Homo sapiens: one gene and its partners. The protein of the gene in region 2 interacts with the protein of the main gene of each other region in a pairwise test. Each region holds a gene or a part of one and is shown on either strand. Other genes may lie near its edges.

The links.
Region 1: the proteins of ZNF275 (region 2) and RNF4 interact in binary tests that used the Homo sapiens proteins (3 or more experiments, as listed by UniProt).
Region 3: the proteins of ZNF275 (region 2) and BAHD1 interact in binary tests that used the Homo sapiens proteins (3 or more experiments, as listed by UniProt).

The regions. Positions count from the first base shown.
Region 1 is NC_000004.12:2,503,459-2,507,105, reverse strand, and holds part of RNF4 (E3 ubiquitin-protein ligase RNF4), read right to left. Parts: intron 1-3,647. UniProt on the Homo sapiens protein: E3 ubiquitin-protein ligase which binds polysumoylated chains covalently attached to proteins and mediates 'Lys-6'-, 'Lys-11'-, 'Lys-48'- and 'Lys-63'-linked polyubiquitination of those substrates and their subsequent targeting to the proteasome for degradation.
Region 2 is NC_000023.11:153,332,553-153,336,976, forward strand, and holds the start of ZNF275 (zinc finger protein 275), read left to right. Parts: upstream 1-1,600; 5' UTR 1,601-1,733; intron 1,734-2,909; exon of another isoform or gene 2,910-2,985; intron 2,986-4,081; 5' UTR 4,082-4,127; coding exon 4,128-4,158; intron 4,159-4,424. UniProt on the Homo sapiens protein: May be involved in transcriptional regulation.
Region 3 is NC_000015.10:40,457,831-40,461,477, reverse strand, and holds part of BAHD1 (bromo adjacent homology domain-containing 1 protein), read right to left. Parts: intron 3,028-3,647; coding exon of another isoform or gene 3,014-3,027; coding exon 1,582-3,013; intron 1-1,581.

The DNA of each region.
Region 1 (3,647 bases), on a different chromosome or scaffold from region 2:
GTGACTTATTCATACATTATAGAAACAGACCAAAAAAAGATTCCAGAAAAATCAACCTTACTAAGAGACAATCTTTGGAAATTTAAGAAAAACAGCCTAAGTAACATTTTCAATAACCTTCCCCTTAAAGAATCTCGATTCCTTAAAGAGAGTTGCCAGTCTCTTTTCTACCACTGCATTGCTTCTAGCCAGAGCAGAGACTGGCATACTGAAAATGCTCATGAAAAGTGACCCAAGGTCAGGCTCAGTGGCTCACAACTACAATCCCAGCACTTTGGGAAACCAAGGTGGGAGGATCACTTGAGCCCAGGAGTTTGAGACCACCCTGGGCAATACGGTAAGACCTTGTCTCTCCAAAAAAATATAAAAAATCAGCCAGGGATGGTGACATACCCCTATAGTCCCAGCTACTTAGGAGGCTGAGGCAGGAAGCTCAATTGAGCCCAGAAGGTACAGGCTGCAGTGAGCCGTGATGGCACCACTGCACTCCAGCCTGGGTAACAAAGTGAGACCCTGTTTCAAGGGAAAAAAAAAGAAGAAGAAGAAGAAAAAAAACAAATTTGGAGAAAGCACACAACTTGGAAAAAAAAAAAAGATTATTTGCTGTTAAAAAGCAACCAAGGAGGCCGGACATGGTGGCTCACGTCTGTAATCCTAGCACTTTGGGAGGCTGAGTCAGGTATATCACTTGAGGCCAGGAGTTCAAGACCAGCCTGGTCAACATGGCAAAACCGTCTCTCCTAAAAATACAAAAATTAGCTGGCCGTGGTGGTGTGTACCTGTAATCCCAGCTACTCAGGAGGCTGAGACATGGGAATCGCTGGCACCCTGGAGATGGAGGTTGCAGTGAGCCAAGACTGTGCCACTGCACTCCAGCGTGGGCGACAGAGCGAGACTCTGTCTCAGGGGGGAAAAAGAAAACAACAAATGGTTTGCTTTGTTCTAGTTCAATTTTTTCAACGATTTAAAAAGTTTATAGGACTCAAGGAACCAAAACTGTATCTGATGGCCTCAAGGGTTATGTTTGAAGGCTTGCTGACTTGCAGAAAACTCAAGCTGACTGTTCAAGATGTTCAGGGCAAAAACTGCCTAGCTTCCATGCGTGGGTCTTACCCATGACAAAATGTGTTGTGTGATTTAAAAATGGCAGACCACCCGGGTGGATCACTTGAGGTCAGGAGTTCGAGACCAGCCTGGACAACATGGCAAAATCCTGTCTCTACAAAAAATACAAAAATTAGCTGGGCGTGGTGGTGCATGCCTATAGTCCCAGCTACCCAGGAGGCAGAGGCTGCAGTGAGCTGAGATCACGCTACTGCATTCTAGCCTGAGTGACAGTGAGAAACCGTCTCAAAAAAAAAAAAAAAAAAAAAAAAAAAAAAGGCAGACCATGATTGAAGCTCATGTTGATGTCTAGACTACCAATGGTTAAAGAAAACCTCAGCACCAACAGGTCTAAGATGATGGAAATCATGACCCAAGGCCGGGCGCGGTGGCTCACACCTATAATCCCAGCACTTTGGGAGGCCGAGGCGGGCGGATCACGAGGTCAGGAGATCGAGACCATCCTGGCTAACATGGTGAAACCCCGTCTCTACTAAAAATACAAAAAATTAGCCGGGTGTGGTGGCGGGCACCTGTAGTCCCAGCTACTCTGGAGGCTGAGGCAGGAGAATGGTGTGAACCCAGGAGGCGGAGCTGGCAGTGAGCCAAGATCGCACCACTGTACTCCAGCTTGGGCAACAGAGCGAGACTCCATCTCAAAAAAAAAAAAAAAGAGAGATGCAGACAAATAACTTGAAAGAAGTGGTGGAGAAAATTATTCCAGACAGCACTGGAGAAGACACAGAAATGCCTGCAAATCTATTTATCCGCTCCACGATGTCTTCTCTGTGAGGAAAGTTAAAATGCTAAAAACACTCAGGTTTGCATTGGGAAAACGTAGGGAGCTTTGTGGTGAAGACAGCAGTTCTGGAAAAGCTACTGGGATGAGCTAGGTACTAAAGTGAAAAGTCCTATTTATGATGAAAAAAGTTTATATACGAAAGTTGCATAAAAAAAAGCTATGTAACAGCCAGGTGCAGCGGCTCATGCTTATAATCCCAGCACTTTGGGAGGCCAAGGCGAGTGGATCACCTGAGGTCAGGAGTTCAAGAACAGCCTGGGCAACATGGTGAAACCCCATCTCTACTAAAAATATAAAAAATTAGCCTGGCATGGTGGTGCGTGCCTGTAGTCCCAGCTACTCAATAGGCTGAGGCAGGAGAATTGCTTGAACCCGGGAGGCGGAGGTGAACTGAGTGAACTGAGATCGTGCCACTGCACTCCAGCCTGGGTGACAGAGTGAGACTCTGTCTCAAAAAAAAAAAAAAAAAAAAATACAAAAAATGAGCCGGGCATGGTGGCGGCTGCCTGTAGTCCCAGCTACTCTGGAGGCTGAGGCAGGAGAATGGCGTGAACCCAGGAGGCAGAGCTTACAGTGAGCCAAGATCACGCCACTGCACTCCAGCCTGGGTAACAGTGCAAGACTCTGTCTCAAAATAAATAAATAAATAAATAAATAAATAAATAAATAAATAAAAGCTATAAAACAAAGAAGTTTTAAACAGGCACTTCACAAAAGAGAAAAATAAACATGAAAAGGTGTTTGATCCCATTTGTAATAAAAAAGCACAAATTAAAACCACAATGAGACACCACTGGACAAGCATCAGAATGGCTAAAATTAAAAGTGGCCATGAGGATGTGGAGAACCTCAAACACTGGCATGAATGTGAACTGCTCCCTCTTTAGAAAAGTCTGGCATTTATCCAGTAAAAATCAAAGACACTCACACCTCGGGACACAGCAGTGATGCCTTTTCTAGGCTATGCAATGCCAAAAATGAAAGTTCATTTTGAGGGAAACTAATCAAATGAGATGAACAAAGTCTCTCACTGCATCTTACCGCATTTTTCATTTCCCTTCATTTTTCAGGGGCTTTGAATTCCTTCGAAAGTTGGAAGAATGTGCACACCTGTATGCAAAGTTTCCAGTCTTTTTTTCTTTTTTGAAGAAGACAGGGTCTCACTATGTTGCCCAGGCTTGCCTTGAACTCCTGAGTTCAAGTGATCCTCCTTGCTCAGCCTTCCCAGTAGCTGGGACCACAGGCACAAAGTTTAGAGGGTTCCCTGATGTTCTGACGGCTACCTCTGGATCCTGGTATCCAGGGATTCCTATATTACAGGTACAGAGCTACTGGAGCTAAAGCAGTGCACTCAAACTATTCGACAGGTCCTGGCGGAACTGGTAAGGAAGGTTACCCCGCTTCCAGAATGAATACATTTATCCATTTTATACTCTCCTGCAGGTGCAGCCTAGGGTCACCCTGAACACACGATCCATCTACAGATGCCCCTTATCCTCAGTGACTAGCATTAGAGGCCTCCCAAACAGATCTGCTCAGAGGCAGAATTCCAAACTCAAGTATATGTCTCAGTGTAAATTCATAAACTGGCACTTGGACTTATTAAAATCAAAAATAAGTAGAGAATGATTAGCAAGAGCTATCAAGTCCAAAGCAGTTATTTTGTGGCTGACAACACTGAGGACAGTGTGAGATAAATCCACTGATCAAACTGACCAGTAGATCTGAGAGACCAGAACCT
Region 2 (4,424 bases):
TCATTCTACCACCAAGACACATGCACCTGTATGGTCATCACAGCACTATTCACAATAGCAAAGACGTGGAATCAACCTAGGTGATCATCAGTGGTGGATTGGATAAAGAAAATGTGGTAGGCATTCACCACAGAATGCTATGCAGCCATAAAAAAAGAATGAAATCATGTCCTTTGCAGCAACATGGATGCAGCTAGAGGCTGTTATCCTAAGTGAATTAATGCAGGAACATAAAACCAAATGCCACACATTCTCATTTATAAGTGGGAGCTAAACATCGGGTACTCGTGCGCATAAAGATGGGAACAACAAACAATGGGAACTACAAGAGGGGTCAGGGAAGGAGGGGTCAAGGGTTTAAAAACTAACTATTGTGTACTATGTTCAGTACTTGGATGACAGGGTCATTCGTACCCCAAACCTCAACATCACACACTATACCCAGGCAACAAACCTGCACATGTACCCCCTAAATCTAAAATGAAAGTTGAAAACATAAAATTTCTCAGGAACTACATGTGTGTGTATATATATATACATACATACACACACACATATATACACACACATTGCACATAATGGGCTAGCTTTCTCTTTTGTCTCTCTCTCTATATATACACACACACATATATATACATATATATATACTGCACATAACATTGGGCAAACTACTTGAACAGACACTTTACAAAGAAAGATATAGAAATGGCCAGTGAGCACATAAAAGCATACTCAACATAATTAGTCATCAGGGAGATGATAATTGAAATAACAATGAGATGCCACTTCCCACCCTTTCAAATGGCTAAAAATAAAGGCTGACAACCTCAAATGTTGATGAGGATGGGAAAGAAAAGGAGCTCGCATACATTTCTGGTGGGAATGTAAATTGCACAACCACTTTGGAATACATTCTGGCAGTTTCTTATAAAACATAAAACTATCCTGTGATGTGGCAATTCATCTCTTAGGTATTTGCCCAAGAAAAATGAAAGCATATGTCCACACAAAGATGTGTACATGAATATTCATAGTAGCTTTATTTATAATCGCCCAAACTGGAAACAGCCCAGATCATAACCTGGTGAATGAACAAACCAACTCTGATATATCCAAACAATAGCATACTACTCAGCGATAGCACATTCAACAACATAGATAAATCTTGAAAACATCACGTTGAATGAAAGAATCCAGACACACAATAGTACATACGATCTGATTCCATTCATACAGAATACTGGCTTTCCAGTCTTCGCCCTCAGTTCCCGACCCTTCACTCCCCCCACCACCATCTTGAAGATGCCCAAGGGGGAGAGGTCCCTTCCATTCCTTCGTTCCTTCCTTCGTCTGCTGGTCGATTTGTTCGCTCGTTCATTCATTCATTCGCACGCTCATTCCACTCCTCCCCACCTCCACCCAAGCGTCCAGCCCGCGCGCGCCGCTCCCCCGCAGGCTGATCAGACTTGCCTGCCCAGTCCGCCCCCGCCCAAACCCCGCCCCCTTCCCGCCACGCCCCCTTCCCGGGCCAATCGGGGACGAGACTGGGGCCGGGGCGGGGCCTCGCTCCCTCAGAACCCCCGGCGGCGCTCACGGCTCCGGAAACGCGCCGCGGGGCTGTTAGCTCGGCTGGGCACGGGCGGCTCCGTGGCGCTTCCTGCCACGCCAGGCCTGCCTGGGCCGCGCCAGCGCCGCTCCACCGAGGGCCGCGCGTCGGCCGCCGCCGGGCCTGGGTGAGTGTGCGGGCCGCGGGAGGATGTGCGGGGGGCGCTGGAGGGGCCGCAGGGCGGAGGTGATCGTGGGGGCGGCAGGAGGACGTGTGGACCTGAGTGAGCGTGCAGGGCCGCGAGAGGATGTGCAGGGGGTGCAGGACTGTGTGCGGGGCTGGAGCGAGTGTGCGGGCCGCAGAAGAGTGCACGGTGGAGGGAGGGGGCGTCTCTGGGCAGTTGGAGAGCTGCTCGGCCTTGGGCGGGCCAGAGCAGGGAACGGGTCCCGGATGACGAGTACGAAGAGGCCCGAAGGCCTTCCCGAGGCGGGCGGGGGGCGGCGATCCCGGGTGGGAATCGCTAAAGTGTAGAGGCCTGCTCTGCTCTTTGGGGGACGCTAGGAGATGGGAACCGCTCAGGGGCGGAGAGAAAGGACCCCTGCCCCTAGCTCCTAGGAGCCCGATCTGGAGGGGGCATTGTAGGGGTGGGGGTTAAAGGACTTTTCCCTGGTCTAGGGGAGGGACTGAGCCGCAGTCTGGGAGCTGGGAGGGTGGGCCAGGTGGGAACAGTTCCCGCTGGGGAGTCCCTCCTTTCCTTTTGAGTGGGTGGGAGTGGGGGGGGGCGGTTAAGCCTCAGCTTGGTGGGGAGAATGGGGGCCGGTAGGTAGCCTAGAGAGAGAGCTGTGGAGAGGCAGGGGAAAGGGGGCGGTGAGCCGAGCTCAAGGCCCTCTGTCTGAACCAGTCTTTTTCTGTCGCCCTACTGGGGGCCGCCATCTCCCACTTCAGTGCCCCCGCCCCCTTAAACTCCTTTGCTGGCTCCTCCAGTCTATATTTGGGTGATTAATTATATATCTTTTCCACACACACCCCCCACTCGCCTGCCGCCCAAAGTCCATGGTCCCTTTCAAACAACCCCCTGCCCCCATTCCTGGCCCACTTCCCAGAGGTCCCACCCTGCCACCTTGTTCCAACTGAAGCCCTCCAGCCAGCCTTGACCTAGCTGGGCATGCGGCCCCCTCCAGTCTCCTTAGTCAATGAAACATTTCCTCTTCAACCTCAGCCCGACATTTTTCCTTTACAAGAGAATTTCAGATGGGATTGCTGGAACAGCACCTCCCCTAGGTACTAATGCTGCCTCAGCCCCTCCCCACCCTCACCTTCCCCCAACCCTGCAACATTGGACCTTCAAGTAGAAGCCACTTGCACAGTATCTGGCCCAGTTCAGTACATCCCCACAAAATGTTACTAGGGGGATGTACTGAACTGGGTCAGACACTGAGTTTTATATATAGAACCCTATTGAGCAGTAATTTGCAGCCTTCTGTCTGTGAGGGACCCCTTGGAAATCTACCAGAACTTGTGAATTCTCTTCTAACCATCAGCACAGACTCAGAGATAGTGGGCTCCCATTTCAGCAGGTTCCTGGGCAGGAATCCTGTCAGTAACAGAGATTCTGAGAGTTGGAGAATCTGGGAACCTCCAGATTCTAGACAGGCCCAGTGTTAAGGAGGTGCAGCTCTGCATCATAATCTCCTGGGGTGCTTGTTGAAAAATGCAGACTCCTTGGTCTCTCCCAAACCTGCGAAACTCCCACATGAGTTCTTAGTGAACTCCACACCAACTTTCTCACCCAGTGATCCAGCCCTTACCCAAACCTGCCTGGGCTCCTTGGATGGCCCTGGGCTCTTTGCAATTTGCATAGCATCCCACCCCACCCCCAATTTCGACCTTTGTATCCAGGCGATGTTACCTAAAGGAAGCTATACTTAAAATTTATTTCGATTTTTAGTAAGATGCCATGAATCTTCTTGGAGAAATGGGAACACAAAGCTTTCCTCAATTAAGTACAACAAACACTACAAAATCCCCTTCTGGTCTACCTTCTGGCTTTTTATAGAAAGGAAATAAGATAGAAACCCAAACAGAAAGAGACAGGTGCCCAGGCAAAGTGAGAGGAAACAGATGCCTTCCCACCCACACATACAGAAAAAGGCACACACAGACACAAATACCCCAAGAGAGACAGACTTTCCTGGTGAGACACCCTCTCTTTAGGCCCTTCAGGATTCTGCTACTTCGAGTAGCAGCCTGTTTGCTGCTTTGGGACGGGACGGGATGGGCCCACGTGGGGCCTTCACTTCCGCCTCCTGGCCTGTCAGGTGGAAAGAACATGAAGGCCAGGCTCAGCGTGGCCCAGGGCTTGGCTCAAGGGTTGCATCCTGGCCTGGCTAGGGTGGATCCAGATCGTGGCAGTATATATTCAGTTGAACCCTGTATCTGGCCCAGTTCAGTACATCCCCCAAAATGTGGGGGACATGTTCCTGGGAGGTGCACACAGGTCTGCTTCTGTTCACCTGAATTATTGCAATCCAACAGATGGGGCCTTACCTGCCAGGCTGATCCCTTGGAGTAGTTCTGAGGCATGATGAGTCATCCGTGTGTGTCTCTTTTGGGTAAGTCTGGGTGTTTATGCATGGTGTCTGCTGGCTTTGACGCTGGGCATGCTATCAGAAGACCCTATAGGTGGGGTTACAACATGGTGAGGAGTATCGTTTTGGTTCCGGAAGCACTTATATTTTCATCTGTGCCACTGTTGCTGAACTGTCTTTGCCCAGAGACAGTTCTCTCAATCCAAGCAATACAACTCACAGGAGAAAAGATATTCAGGAAAGAGAATCTGGAGTCTAATCTCCCTTTTGGATGGGAGAGGGAGCTGAAG
Region 3 (3,647 bases), on a different chromosome or scaffold from region 2:
TTAGTAGAGATAGGGTTTCACCATGTTAGACAGGCTGGTCTCAACCTACTGAGCTCAGGCAATCTGCCCGCCTCAGCCTCCCAAAGTGCTAGGATTACAGGCATGAGCCACCGCGCCTGGCCCTGATATTAATTTTCTAAGGCTTTCATAATGCTTGGGAATAGGGGTTCTAGAATCAGCCTGGGTTCTGCCACTTACTAGCCATGTGACTTCAGGCAAGTCACTCTGCCCCTCAGAGCAACTGGCTGGTTTTCTTACGAACACATTAACTCATTTCATCCTTACAAAAACCCTGTGAGATAGGTATCATTACACCCATTTTATAGTTAAGAAAACTGAGACACAGAGCAGTTACTGACTCGCCCATAGTCACATGGCTAGGAAAGTGGGGGAGAACATTTCACTCCAGGCAGTCTGGCTTCGGAGTCTGTGCTCAATTACATGCCAAGCAGCCTCCCATATGTAAAGCACTCAGAACAGTGCCTGGTACATGGTGTTTACTGGTGTCCTTATTATTAGGGAGAGGGGATAAGGGTCTAGACTTGGGGAATGGCACAAAAAAAGAAGGAAAACCCCAAGCAGCAGCCTGTTCTCATGTCATAAGAACTCTAACTCAAGCCACAACCTGAAACAACCAGTCTGGCCAGGGCCAACTGGTCTATAAAGTTGTTTTATAGACCCCTACAAGAAAGGATGTCAGGGGAAGGGAGATCTGGAAGGTCCAGCCCTCACCTCCCCAGCAGCAGGGCAGACCTGCTGGCCAGCATGTCTCATTTCCACCCAGGAGGCAGGCAGGGAGCCTGAAGAGGCAGGTGAGGATACCTCTGCCAGTTTAGGGAAGAGAAATGATTCTGGGAGTGTCTCAACAGCCGGAGCATGGGCCTCTCAGGTGTCTGGGTCTTGTCAGGCAGGCAGACACCAAAGCTGTGGGCCCTGATCGCATTCCATCCATGTCAGGGAACTCTGCTTGTCTGTTCTCATGGTGCACCCTCTCTATCCACACCCAGCAAAGTGATGCTCAGTCTGGGCACTTCTCTTTCAATGCCTCTATAGCCAGGGCAAAGCTGCCCTGTGCAGTAGGTACCACCTACTGAGCCTGGTACCTACCACCTTTCCCATGAATGCTGAACTTGGCCAGCATGCAGAGAGTACTGGTTTCTAGAAACTAGGGAATTCTAGCTTTCCTCAAGGAGGGTAGAAGGGCCGTGAGAACAATTTGGTAAAAGTCCTAATTCCAATATCTAACCTGCTCTTCAGAGTCTAAGAACGGGTATCCCAATGAGGAGAGAAGAGAGGCCTTCCTGTGGCCTGTACCACTGCAATGCTACCTAACTGCCAGGCCAAGAATCTCCAAAGGTAGCCTGGGCAGAGCAAGGCTGTCCAGAGCTATACGGGCCCTGTTCTTGGGAATGCTCCTCGGCTTGGGGCACAGACTACGGGAGTTCTCACTTCTGAAAGCCCCCTACCTTCCAGTTAGCAGCCAGACCCCAAGGGAGACCCCTGCTCAGATCAACAGCCCAACCTCCTGGGATGCCATGTCTCCGAGACTCCCCAGTACATCTTGGGCCCAGGAAGCCTCACCTGCTGCAAAAGGCATTTTGTATGGGCAGCCGCCACAGGTAGTGCCAGCGTGGGTAACAGACAGGGGCAACACTCCGCAGATGCTGTAGCCATTCACTCCAGTGTCCTCGCTAGAGCAGTAGCGAGAGGAGCCCCAGGGAGGGTGCTGGAAAGGGGTGCCTGAGGGCACTGAGCTCGGAGCTAAGAGGAGCCCCTCCTCGTGAGGTGCAGCCACTGGGGACAGCTTGCCCTCAGGAAGCATGGGGCAGGGCGAGTAGCCCCCACACTGCAGCCCCTCTTGGCCACAGTACAGGTAGAAGCTGCCTAGTGCAGTGAGCTCAGGCCCAACACACAGGCCATTGTAGTCGGCGGGGTTGCCAGGCATCGGCAGCGGCGACAGCTGAGGTGTGGGGAAAGAGGGCTGATGCAGTTCCTGCTTAGGGGCAGGTGACTCCTCGCCTGGGCGCCCAGGCTCCGGCTTCAGAGCCGCCTGTCCACCCATCAGCAGGGGCAGGTGAGGGCGCAGCCCCAAAGGGCTCTCCAGAGCCTTGCTCAGGGGCTGATGAGATGGCTGGACGGATGGCCCACAAGGAGTTGCAGATGGCCATGGTTCATCAGGGCAGCCTTGCCAGCCAGGTGGGCCTGCAGCCTCCCCAGAGCTGGCCCCCTGCCAAGCCTTGGGATAGTTCTTGCCATTGACCTTGGGCCACTTTGGCCTCGGGGCCTTGGGTGCTGGGGGCTCAGTGGAGCGCCCATCTACTTCTGCATGGGCACGAGGCAGCCGCAGGGGTAGCTCCCGCTCCTGGCTCAGTTTTAGGAAAGCAGCTGCGTTCAGGCTAGCCAGTCTCTTGGGAGCTGGGTCTCCATCTCGGCGGGGACCTTCATCGGGTGCTGGCTCTGGAGACAGGTCCCGACTTCCTCCTCCAAGGTCCCCCAGCCGGGGCCGCTTCTTGGAGGAGGACCAGCCCCCAGTAGCACGATCACGGTCACGGCTGCGGTGGGGATCCCCTGCTCGACTGCGGCGGGTGCCTGCCAGGCTGCTGGTGTCCTCTCGCTCCAGCAGCAGGTTATTGAGAGCTTCAGCATTGAGGGAGGCCAGGCGCCGCTTGCGGGGCTGGGCAAGGCCAGGGTCTTCACTGGATGGGGCCGGGCTGGGGGGCTTGGGCAGGTCAGGCGGTAGCTCATCAGCCTCATCTGCACTCCGGGGACCGGCCACATTCTCCAGGCGAGTCAGCAGCACTTTGCAGGCCTTGGGCTTCTCAGGAACCAATGGGCGCTTACGAAGTGGGTAATTCTTGCGGCGCCCTGTGAGGTGACCTGGGCTCTCGGGCATGCCTGGCTCCACACCCTCAACCCCCTGCTCCATGTTGCTGTCTTCCATCTGCAGGGGCTCTCGGCGGCCAGTGAGGCCCGAACTCAGCATGGGAAGGGACTTTCTCCGAGTGTGTGTCATGGAGTACTTCCAACCTGCAGGACAGAAGGTGGGCAATGAGAGAAGCCCTCTCTGGCCTGCTCCTGCCTGCTTTCTCTCCCACTGCAGCCTACCCAGCCCCAGGTGCAGTGATCCTGGCCTACAACTACCCTGTCTCCAGTATGGATTTTCCTGGGACTCCCTTTCCAGAGTGTGAAGGGGCAGTGGAATCAAGCTACCAGCAGCTGTGCAAGGACTGGTTCCTCCTCTTTCCTTTTAGCCTAGGGTATCTCTGAACTAAGCCCCTGAAGAGCCTAGGGAGCAAGGCAGACCCCAGGGACAGGGGATAGGAGGAGCTGGTGGCAAAGCTCTTTGTTCTCTCCCCCTGTCCTTCTCTCACTAGATATTCATCACAGGATAGGAAGAGGCTCTGAAGACAGAGCCTCCCAAGATGGGGGACTGGGTGGTAGAAGTCCATTTATTCTTTCTTCTTTTTTTCTTTTTTTGAGAGACGGAGTCTCGCTGGAGTGCATTGGTGAGATCTTGGCTCACTGCAAGCTCCGCCTCCCAGGTTCACGCCATTCTCCTGCCTCAGCCTCTCGGGTAGCTGGGACTACAGGTGCCCGCCACCACGCCCCGCTAAATTTTCTTTTGTATTTTTAGTAGAGAGGGGGTT